3 linked regions of the Homo sapiens genome follow. The protein of the gene in region 2 purifies or fractionates together with the protein of the main gene of each other region. This does not show direct contact. Each region holds a gene or a part of one and is shown on either strand. Other genes may lie near its edges.

Region 1 (3,645 bases), on a different chromosome or scaffold from region 2:
CAGGATGTCAAGGACCACCGCAGGTCCTGGGTATGTCACCTCCAGCACGTAGCGCAGCCGAGGCAGCAGGCTGGTAGCCAGGAGCCCCTGGGAGTTGGAGAGAGAAACCCACTGACAAATGCAGCTGGACCCTGGGCATTGATGGCCCCTCTTTCCAGCATGTGCTTGTCCCCTGGGCCATGGGATGGGAAAGAAGCTGTCCCTTTACCTTGATGACATCATGTCGGGCCAGGTCAGGTGGAGGCCGGCTTTCTTCTTCAGGGCTTTTCCTTTTTGCTTTTCCTGCTGGGCATTCTTCATCCTCGTCCTCATCCTCCTTGTCCTCCTGGCTGGGCATCAGAGGGAACGTCAAAGCTCCATGGTACCAAGAGAAGGTGCTGTCGAGGAGCTCCTGCCAGAGGAACGGGAGTTGGGGGGCAATGCTGAAGGGGCCAGGAAATGGATCCAGGAGTAGAGAGGATGCTCCCCAATAAAAACCATAAAGGCAAGCCTCCTGGGCTTTAGGGACTTTAGGAGATGAGGGAGACGCCTGCCATCCCATTCTACATCTTGCCCGCAAAGCCTTAGCAATGGGGCCATGCCCAGGAACAGGAATATGGACCCTGGCACCTCCCAGCCCAAGCCCCATTCCTATCCCTGTGGTACCTCATCTCCAGGAGCCACCAGCAGAGCCCGAAGAGCACGGATGGCGGTTGCAATGACCCCATCCACTCTGTCATCCAAGGAGAAGCGCAGTAGGAAGAGGAAACCAGCATCCAAAAGGAGGCTTAAGACACTGCCTGCTAGCCGGTCCCCAAACTCACCAGCCTGGGCCTGAGGGCAGGAGGGTAAAACCTTGCTGAAGATGCTGAAGTTATCTAGAGGCTTTGCCCTAATCCTTCGTTTGCCCCCCTATGATCCTAGGTTGTTAAAAGCACATAGCTGGCTAGTGAGCCAGAGTGAAAAGGGCAGGAGATGGGGAAGTCTGAGGCTGTGGGGTGAAGGGAAGGGTGGGCAGGACCAGGCTGGCAATCCACTCACCCTGCTGATGACCTGGGCTAACACATGCAGTGCCAGTGCTCTCTGCTGGGAAACCTGGCTGCGGGTCAGGTGGAACAGCTCCTGTAGGGAATACCCCGCTCTCTGGGGCAGGGACAAGAAGTCAGAAGCAGCCAGGATACAGCACAGTGCCCCCAAAACACCAAGCAAGGTATCACAGGAAAGACAAAGATAAATAAGTGAAATCTGCCCTGCTTTCCATGGAGCCTCAAGCCGGTAAAGATAAGACTTGCATACAAGTAACCATGCCATGAGGCAGATGCAGAGGAACGTGATAACTGATGTTTAATTTGCGACCGGCGGACAGGAGAGAGAGAGAAGGGAACCTGGAAAATTAAATTGGTCTCAGTGGATGGGTAGAGCTTTGATGGCCTGACATGGAGCAAAAGGCAAAGGCATTTCCTGGAGCGAGTGGAGTCCTGGAGGGCCCTGAGCACAGGAGGTATGTGGGGAGAAGCCAGCAGAGTGGTGTAGCAGGAAGTGAAGGAGGCAGAGCAGCAGGGTCAGCAGGGACAAAAGGTAGAAGGAATATCTTGCCCAGCTGAGACCAGAACCTTATTTTGTGAGCAGAGGGAAGCTGGGAAACTTCTGGAGGCAAGGCATGGCCTGAGCTGGGCCAGAAGAAATCAGCACAGCAGCCCCGAGAGACATGGAATGGCAGGGGGGCGGAGAATGGAGGGCATGGAGAGTGAGCAGACCAAGGAAGCAAGGCCACAGTGCAGGAGGCATCATGAGGAGGTGACAGAAGATCGGCAAATTCTAGCAACTGACCAGAATACGGAGAGAGGATCAAGATTTTGAGCCTAAGAAACTGAATGCCACGCCTGTAATCCCAGCACTTTGGGAGGCCGAGGCAGGCGGATCACAAGCTCAGGAGATCAAGACCATCCTGGCTAACATGGTGAAACCCCGTCTCTACTAAAAATACAAAAATTAGCTGGACGTGGTGGCATGCGCCTGTAATCCCAGCTAGTCAGGAGGCTGAGGCAGGAGAATGGCTTGAACCCAGGAGGTGGAGGCTGCAGTGAGCCAAGATCATACCACTGCACTCCAGCCTGGGCCAGAGCGAGATTCTGTCTCCAAAAAAAGAAACTGAATGCACAGCAAAGGCATGAACTAGAACAGGGCACACAGAAGGTCAAAGGCAGTTGACCAGAGATCCTTTTCCATGGGGTTGTTAAAAGAGCTGCCCCATCCTCTCCAGTCCCATGCCTCACCTCTGCCTCCTCTCCATGGTGGTGCAGACCCAGGTGGGTGGGCAGGTCCACGTCAGGGGCCAGTAGTTCTCCCTGAAGACTGAATCGAGCCTGCATCCTCTAATGGGAAGAGAAAGAGGACTGTGGTCTGGGGGCTCCAGCAACCTTCCCACACCCACTCCCCACCTTTAATCCCAGGCCTTTCAGGACTTAGGTACTGACTCTACTTCTACCAGAAATGGGGCTTATCTGGCCTTGGGGGCCAGGCAGAGTGATGGTAAAGGTGGGTGAGAGCAAAGGAGAGATGCTTCTCAGGCTCTGGGCAATAGAAAGGCCTGAGTTCTGAGGGCAAGAGCAGCAGCTCCTCTCCTGCCCTATCTCACCCACCCCTTGTAGGCCAGGTGGCCCTCCTCACCTCCTGTGTCTGCTGCCGCCGGACAGGGGGCAAGTCCTGGGTCCAGTGGAGCTTCTCCAGCTCGACAGTGTCCATGTGCAGCCATTCTTTCTGAGGGGTCACGGGCAATGCCAGAGCTGGGGAGACAAAGCATGATAGTATTACCCAAACGGCTCAGCTCACTATCCACAGGGGTCCCCACCATCACCCAGCAGCTGCCACATCCACTTCTGTTCCAGGATCTGCCAGCTTCTACCCTCGGTTATGGCTAAATGGCATGGCCCAGGGACTGGAACTCCTGGGGCTGGGGTGAAAGTCTCAAATATGACAGACACACTCCATCCTGGGCTCCAGCCCCTTGCTGACCCCAAGGATTTGTTGGGAGGGGAGAGAGGAGGAGAAGGAGAAGGAAGAAAGAGAAAGAAAGGAGAAAAAGATGAAGAAGGAGGACCACATATGTCAGGAAGGCACCATCTCCACTTTCCAGTACCAGCCCTTAAAGGAGTAGGAGAGTGGGGACAATGAGGAGGAGGCAACTATACTGCTCCTGGGGGGCAGGATACAGAAACAAATCCCACAGCATTTTCCTCCTTCACGCCTACCCCCACCCAACCTGCTCAGCTGGCCTGGAGCTCCTCCGGGGGCATGAGGTTCCTGGCTCTCATAATTCAATTTCTTATTTTGTTAATCACTAATGAAATAATCTAGTTTCTGGGAAATGAGTGCTTCCACTGGCCTCTCTGCTTCTGGTCTGGCATGTTCATAAGATCTTTGTCAGATTCTGCCTCTCTTATTACTCTGGCCCTGCCATCTTTCCCCCAGCACTGTGAGCAGAGAGAGAAAGAACAGTGGGATGGACAGAGCCAGAGCTGGGGCAGCTACAGCAAGGACAGGAAGATAGTCTGCCGGGAGCGGGTGGAGTGGGATTCAGCCATCACGCATTGCTGCCTCTTAAAAGGGAAGGCGGAGAAGGGGCAGTAACAGGACAAGAAAACAGGAAGCATGTGCAGGAAGAAG
Region 2 (4,321 bases):
GCAGAGCCAGGTGTACAGGATGGAACATGAAGGTGGACTAGGAGCGTGACCACTGAAGCACAGCATCACAGGGAGACGGTTATGCCTCCGGGTAACTGTGGGCGGGCCTGTGGAGGAGTAGAGTCTTCTCTAAACTCCCCCGGGGAAAGGGAGACTCCCTTTCCCGGTCTGCTAAGTAGCGGGTGTTTTTCCTTGACACTAACGCTACCGCTAGACCACGGTGGGCTTGGCAACAGGTGTCTTCCCAGATGCTGGCGTTACCGCTAGACCAAGGAGCCCTCTGGTGGCCCTGTCCGGGCATAACAGAAAGCTTGCACTCTTGTCTTCTGGTCACTCCTCACTGTCCCCTCAGCTCCCATCTCTGTATGGCCTGGTTTTTCCTAGGTTATGATTGTAGAGCGAGGATTATTATAATACTGGAATAAAGAATAATTACTACAAACTAATGATTAATGATTCATATATAATCATATCTAAGATCTATATCTAGTATAACTATTCTTATTTTATATATTTTATTATACTGGAACAGCTCGTGCCCTCGGTCTCTTGCCTCGGCACCTGGGTGGCTTGCTGCCCACATCCACCAAGTGCACTTTGGGAGGCTGAGGCTGGAGGACTGCTGGAGGCCAGGAGTTCAATACCAGCCTGGGCAACATAGGGAGACCCCCCCCCCACCATCTCCAAAAATAAAAAAAAAAATAGCTAAGTGTGATGGCACATGCCTGCAGTCCTAACTATCGGGAGGCTGAGGCAGGAGGATCTCTGGAGCCCAGGAGTTGGAGGCTGCATGATGGCGCCACTGTACTTCAGCCTGGGCGACAGAGGGAGACGCTGTCTCTAAATAATAATAATAATATATAAAAAGATATACGTAACCCTACGGGCTCCCCTCTCACTGCTGTATACACCTGCCTCCTTCTGCATCCCTCACCCAATTGTCCCTCCCGGCTAACAAGCCAGCTGCACCCCCCAGGCAGAGGTCCTGCAGCAGTCGGTATAGGCAGCCTGGGCAGGGGGCTTGTCATAGATCTGCCTCTGGCCACGAGATCTTCTGCTCCCCCTACGGCTGCTAGCCGCAGCTGTCCACTACCCCTTAGCTTTATTCTCTCTATTCAGGGGCCTCCTGCTGCGCACTCCAAGGGGGTGCACGTTTCCAAAGAGAGATCAAGGGACATGGGGAAAGGAGAAAGGTACAGCTTGAGGTTCCCGCTCAGCCAGGACTAGGAGGCCTCTGTAGGGGCAGAACAGCCCTGCTGGCGCTCTGAGCATGCGCCGAAAAGCGCCCACGGGGAAAGCCATGCCGGGGTGCGGGGTGCGGGGTGGGGGGGAGCGGTGCGCTCGCCACTGACGCATGCGCAGAGGCACTGGTCTCTCTCGGGGTTTTCTCGCGCCTGCGCAAGATCCTCCAGCCCAACGGGGGGCGATGAGCCGATCCTTGGGCGGGTTTGCCCCGCCGGAGTAATCCGGAAGAGGCCTCTTATTAGGGCTCTGGTGGCGGCGGTGGCGGACACTTGGGGTCTGGACGCAACGGCGGCGGGAGCATGAACGCCCCTCCAGCCTTCGAGTCGTTCTTGCTCTTCGAGGGCGAGAAGTAAGTGACGCCGGCTGCGGAGGGCCTAGGTGCGCGGGCCTGCGGCTGTCGCATTCTGGGGTGTCTCCTGCCCATCTCTTGCCCCGGGAGGGAAACAGCTTTTGCTTGATCGTCTGCTCGGCCTGTGTCAGCCAAATTTAAGGCCGTTCCGCGAGGCAGTCGCGAGTGTGTCCATGTTGCAGATGAGGACACTGAGGCTTGGAGGCGAGCAAGTTGCCCCGGACACAGGAAGTGGCGGCGCTTGTATTCGAACCCAGAGTGTCTGGTTCTCCATAGCCCTTTTCCTCTGGGATCTGGCAGCTTCCTCTTTTTGTCTCTCGCCCGCCACCTCCATCCTTCATCCCCTCCGATCTGTCAGCGGCCTGCGTAAAAGCCGCAGTGGCTCCTCGCTGCCTGCGGGTTGAAGGAGTCCAGGGGAGAGAGCTTGGGCTCACTCTGTATCTGTGGGCGAGTGGCTTGATCTGTCGGAGGCCCTGTTTCCTCATCTGGAAAATGAGTTTATTACTGTACTTAAACGTGGGATTCAGGCCGGGTGCGGTGGCTGACACCTGTAATCCCAGCACTTTGGGAGCCCGAGGCGGGCGGATCACCTGAGGTCGGGAGTTCAAGACCAGCCTGACCAACATGGAGAAACCCTGTCTCTACTAAAAATACAAAATTAGCCGGGCGTGGTGGCAGATGCCTGTAATCCCAGCTACTCAGAAGGCTGAGGCAGGAGAATCACTTGAACCTGGGAAGTGGAGGTTGAGGTGAGCGGAGATCACGCCATTGCACTCCAGCCTGAGCAACAAGAGCGAAACTCCGTTTCAAAAAACAAAAAAAGGGATCTGGCCAGGTGCGCTGGTTCACGCTTTTAATCCCGGCACTTTGGGAGGCTCAGGTGGGAGGATTGCTTGAGCTGAGCACAGGAGTTCCAGGCTGCAGTGAGCTTTGATCGCATCACTGCACTCCAGCCTGGGCGACTGAGCGCAATCCTGTCTCAAAATAAAAAGAATTGGATGAGGTAATTTGTGTAAAACTCTTGGTCCAAAGCTCAGCCCCTGGAAAACCTCATAACCATTGGCTCTTATTGTTCCCAGGTTGGCGTGCAGAGGTCTTGGTCTGGCCCTTGCCAGCCACTTCGGCCTCCTTTAGAGCAGACTCTCAACTGGGGACCATTTGGCCCCACAAGGGACATGTGGCAATAACTGAGAACATTATTGGTTGTCAAAGGGGGTTATGACTGGAATCTACTGGGTAGAGGTCAGGGATGCTGCTGATGTCCTACAATGTCCACAAGACAGCACCCCACAGGAAAGAATGATGCACCCTAAAATGTGTGTGGTGTCAGCCTGGAGAAACCACCTTAGAAAAAAGGATATTCAACTTGATACCTCTCACCTGTGTGAGATTTTACTGTCAGCATAGTTGCCCTCAAATTGAGTGTGCATTAGAATCACCTGAAGGGCTTCTTAAACCATAGATCCCTGCGCCCCACCTCCAGAGTTCTGGGTCCAGTAAGTGGGAGGTGGGAGACTCTTAACAAGTTCCCAGGGGATTCTGATGCTGCTTATCTGGGAACTGCACTCTGAAAACCCCTTGTCTTGGAAAATCCAATGGAAGTTTCCTGTCTTTGTCCATCTAAGCGTTCACTAAAATCATAGTAAATGCCAGAGCATGACTTGTTTTGGGGAATGGATGGAAGGACTGCACACTCCAGCCAGGGGGATGGTTGCTTTCGGAACTCACAGGGTCAGGACCAGCCTCACCGTGTAACTTCAGGGCCTCTCTTCTTCACCTTTTGGTTGCTTCATTATGTTGGCGTAAGAAGAAAGGAACAGGCCAGGCATGATGACGTGCGCCTGTGGTCCCAGCTACTCAGGAGGCTAAGGCGGGAGGATCACTTTAGCCGAGGAGTTGGAGGCTGCAGTGAGCTATGATCACACCACTGCACTCCAGCCTGGGCAGCAGGAGAGATCATTTGAGGCGAGGAGTTCAAGACCAGCGAGGACAACAAGGCAAAACCCCATCTCTACCGGAAAAAAAAAAGGAGGAATTCAGAAAAGGCCAAGGTTCCATAGACCTGGGGTAGCAGGAAGTAGGGGACCGGGTTGGCGAGGCCTTTATGGGATGAAGAGATTGAGAAAGGCCTTCAGGAAGAGGCAGAGCTTATTTTTCCTTTTTATTTTTATATTTTTGATACAGAGTTCCACTCTGTTGCCCAGGCTGGAGTGCAGTGGCATGATCTCGGCTCACTGCAACTCCACCTCCCAGGTTCAGGTGATTCTCCTGCCTCAGTCTCCCAAGTAGCTAGGACTACAGGCATGGATCACCACACTCAGCTAATTTTTTTTTTTTCTTTGTATTTTTAGTACAGACAGGGTTTTGCCATGTTGGGCAGGCTGGTCTTGAACTTCTGACCTCAGGTCATCCATCCACCTCAGCCTCCCAAAGTGTTGGGATTACAGACACGAGCCACCACACCTGGCCGGGAGGAGACAGGGTTTAGACTCAGGGTGGGAGGAGGGGAGCCCCTGCTCCTCATCTGTGGCCTCTGTGTCTTCCTAGGATCACCATTAACAAGGACACCAAGGTACCCAAGGCCTGCTTATTCACCATCAACAAAGAAGACCACACACTGGGAAACATCATTAAATCGTAAGTTTCCCGTCACAGGCTCTCAGGGGCTATGTTTAATGGGCCCCTCTGGGCAAAGCACAAGTTCCAAGTCTTCCTCAGTCTCTCTGA
Region 3 (3,498 bases), on a different chromosome or scaffold from region 2:
CATAGGCAGCCCTCTCACGTCTTGAGGTCCGAAGCTGGGGTGGGGGTGTCCGTCAGTTATTAGTGGATGGAGATTCCCACAGCAAGGCTGCATTTGAATGATTTCCTTAGGATGAATGGTCCCTACACAAAGAGGCCTTGTGGGCAAACCTGGAGAACCCTCCTAAATCCATAGAGTTTTCAAAATGTGAATCTTTGGAAGCCTTGAGTTCAGAATCTGCTGCTCTGGAATATTTCCCTTCGATCTTATCTCAGTCACTTCGTTTTTGAGAAGAGTGATGCCTTGGGCATGCTTTTTTTTTTTTCTTTTTTAGAAAACAGGGAGTTGAAGTCCAACCTATTTAAAAACCCCACCATTTGGAGAATTACAAGGGTTTTGTCCTGAATTGTAGTGTTGGCAAGCCCAAGCCACTCGTGCTAACTGCTTTTTGTCTCGGTTGCTATTCCAAGAACAGAAGGAGGAAGTTGGCCAATTACAGCGTGTGTGCATGGATGTGTGTGGGGGGCGTGCCTCTCAGAAACGCGGCCAGAAGACAAGCAGGGAAGTGAAAGGTCCCAGGCACACACCCTGCCCATTGCAGGTGGCTCTTACAGCTCTCTGGTGCCAGCACGGGATCCCTGAAGTGACTCAGCCAGGCAGACATGAGACATGGCGGAGTGTCCAAATGGATCCTTTATTGGTGGTAGAGCAAAAAAACCCAAACACGATAAACCTTTCAAAAGACTTTCTAAGGATGATATTGGAATGCACCAGCCCTCACATGTGTATGCACATTTGCCAGAATATAAGAGTTTTGTTTTAAATACAGTCTTGTTAGGATTTTACGTTATTGTTATTATGGAAAGTGATTGTGATGCTATTTATCTTCAGGGTCACTCTGGGCAAAGAGAAGGTCCTCAGCCATGCCCCCAGCACCTTGCACATAGGTGTCTGATAAAAGTTTAAGAAAGTAAACACTTTTTGAGCACCAAATATATATAGGGCATTGTTCTGGTGGGTGTGTCACGCTCCCAGAAGACTGAATTCATGGTAGGATCACTCGCAAGGCCTTGTGAAGGAGTCTTACCTAAAACGAAAGAAATATCAGGGACTTTTGTTGACTATTTACAACTCAGTTTTACATTTAAATTCAGGCAGTGTTAATATGCCAAGGTAGGGAATGTGCCTTTTTCAGAGTTGGCCAGGAGCTCCTGGCTGGGACACGGAGAGGCAGGTGTGGCGTAAGGCCTCACTCCCGGCTGGGAAGGTCTCTGATCACACAGAAGCAGCCCTGCCCAGCCTGGTCATTTGCTGTCCGCTTTTCTCTGTGACCACAGCAGCCCTGAACAACCAGTATGTGTCTTCTTCTCCAGATAGTGAAAAAGGTGTCCAGATAAACCCACCTAAGTGAAATGGCCATCCTCTAAACTGGGTACCTCACTGCACAGCTTCTAGGTAGCCTTCCAACTTAATCTAACTTGAGCCTCACAGTAACCCTGTAAAGTTAGTAGAGCTTGTTCTTGTATTGTGACCTTTTTTAAAAAAAAGGAACTGAGGTTCAGAATGATTAAGGGCCTGGCCCCCAGGGTTGTCCAGCTCCATAAGGTGGAGCTGGGCAAGATTTTGGGTTTGCTGCTCCCTGAAGCTGGATTCTTTCATACGATACTCTTTCTCAAGAAGGGGGCTCCCTGGGATCTCCAGGTGTACTGCACTTACCCTCAATCCAGCCCCGGAGAAGCAAGTGAAAAGGGTGGGTCCCTCATAGGCTAGAATGTGCAGCTCTTTCTCCAGGTGGGATGTAGCACCCCGAAGTAGAGCTTTCTGCTCTGCTCCTGGAAAAGGCTAGGGAGCTGGGGCTGGGGCTCCCCTCCCATGACCAGGCAGTGGTCACCCCATGGGACAGGCACAGCTACTTACGCGAACACAGCAGGTTGGTGTGGCTGGCTAACTAGGACCTCTCGAAAGTCTCTGTGGGGGCATGAGGGAGAAAAGGCCATTGGGAGAATTACTGCCTTTACTTTGGGACTACTTTTATGCTGATAACTTGGGATTTCTTGATAGTCCTTCACCCCTGAAACCCCGTATTTACTTAACAAGATTTAGCTCTTAGTTCTTCAAGTAAAATTAAAGTCTCTTGTGTAAGAGCCAACACATGCCCAGCTGCGGATGGGAGCTGTTCCTGGACAGCCTTCTACTGCCTGGGAAGTGATGGAACAGGAACTCAGGGTGCCCTTACCCCCTCCCCAGACCTGTTCCCTTTCTTTGACTGACAGAGCACCATCCAGGCAAAATTAGAGCGCCAAATGGTTTTCTTCTCAATCTTAAAGCAGTATACCTTTCCACAGGCTCGTCTGTGTCCCTGCCACTCTGAGTTATCCAGAAACCACCACCTACAAATGAGGGGACTCATCTAGAAGACCTCTAAGGTCCCCTTTTGGCTCTGAGGGGTCTCTAATAATCCCCACTTGGAATTCAGCACCGCAAGGAAATTATGGGTATGTGAGCCATAATATGATGGGCAGCAGGTGGCGCTGCCTTCCACCCATGGTGATGGATGGTTTGGAAAGGGAATGTTGGTGCCTTTTGTGCCACAAGTTAAGATGCTACTGTTTTAAAGGAAAAAAAAAAAAAAAAGTACTGATCTTCAATATGAAGACATGAGCTTTTCTCGCAGGAAATTTTCTTTTTCACAGAACTGGTGTCAGGAATCACTGAAGGGCTAACCGTGATAGTCCTTGCAAGTAAGTCAAGGTTTTATCCTGATTGGAAATAGAAGACATTTCCGGTTGAGAGAACAGATTCGTTGGAAGCTTAACTTTTGTTGCCTCTTAACGCCACCAAATTTTAGGGTAATTTGATTATGAAAGAGTGAATTTTTCTGGACAGAAAAGGGAGAGCTACCAAATTGTTTTTTTCTTTTTAAAAGGAAGTTTAATGTCCGTTGTATCACAAATCAGTGTTAAAACACCAGAACTTTAGCCAAAATAAATGTCTTACATTACAAAGGTATTGTTTTTTTGTCCTTCTTATCACAGTTGGTATTCTTTTACGTTTTTATGCTTAGCTTTTTTTGTTTGGGCTTAGCTTTTATATTTGCGATTTCTAACTTTTTAAAAATAATCATCTAAAACATAGCCGTTCTGAGCTAGTTATAGGTTCCATGATGGCACTGTTTATGCAGTAGATATTGATGAACACCTTTCCAGTACCAGAAATGTTCTGGTAGGAATATTCTTAGGTAGAATGGCCATAATGGTCCTGAATGAAGGAGGTAAGGTTTGTGCTTCTAAGAAAGCAGGGGACTAGGGTGTTCATCTCAAGGTAGCCTCACGTGATGACTGGGTGACATTTTGAGATTTGAGTGATCCTGCAAATGAACAGTCCCTAAACATATCCCCTTCCCCCAGATGCCTTAAATTCCACTATTGGTGCTATGTTCCTTTGAATAAAAAACCTTAGAGAAAGTAGTTGCCTTTTCCTCCCAGACAGAAGTCTGGGCAGAGAAAGCCTCTCGAGGTT

The links.
Region 1: the proteins of POLR2J2 (region 2) and RPAP1 purify together in Homo sapiens (co-immunoprecipitation; one large-scale study listed by IntAct). This does not show direct contact.
Region 3: the proteins of POLR2J2 (region 2) and DUSP3 purify together in Homo sapiens (co-immunoprecipitation; one large-scale study listed by IntAct). This does not show direct contact.

Annotation. Positions count from the first base shown.
Region 1 is NC_000015.10:41,527,215-41,530,859, forward strand, and holds part of RPAP1 (RNA polymerase II-associated protein 1), read right to left. Parts: intron 2,766-3,645; coding exon 2,650-2,765; intron 2,355-2,649; coding exon 2,256-2,354; intron 1,123-2,255; coding exon 1,021-1,122; intron 814-1,020; coding exon 646-813; intron 392-645; coding exon 209-391; intron 88-208; coding exon 1-87. UniProt on the Homo sapiens protein: Forms an interface between the RNA polymerase II enzyme and chaperone/scaffolding protein, suggesting that it is required to connect RNA polymerase II to regulators of protein complex formation.
Region 2 is NC_000007.14:102,668,825-102,673,145, reverse strand, and holds the start of POLR2J2 (DNA-directed RNA polymerase II subunit RPB11-b1), read left to right. Parts: upstream 1-1,482; 5' UTR 1,483-1,544; coding exon 1,545-1,594; intron 1,595-4,141; coding exon 4,142-4,231; intron 4,232-4,321. UniProt on the Homo sapiens protein: DNA-dependent RNA polymerase catalyzes the transcription of DNA into RNA using the four ribonucleoside triphosphates as substrates. Component of RNA polymerase II which synthesizes mRNA precursors and many functional non-coding RNAs.
Region 3 is NC_000017.11:43,765,611-43,769,108, reverse strand, and holds the end of DUSP3 (dual specificity protein phosphatase 3), read left to right. Parts: 3' UTR 1-2,984; downstream 2,985-3,498. UniProt on the Homo sapiens protein: Shows activity both for tyrosine-protein phosphate and serine-protein phosphate, but displays a strong preference toward phosphotyrosines. Specifically dephosphorylates and inactivates ERK1 and ERK2.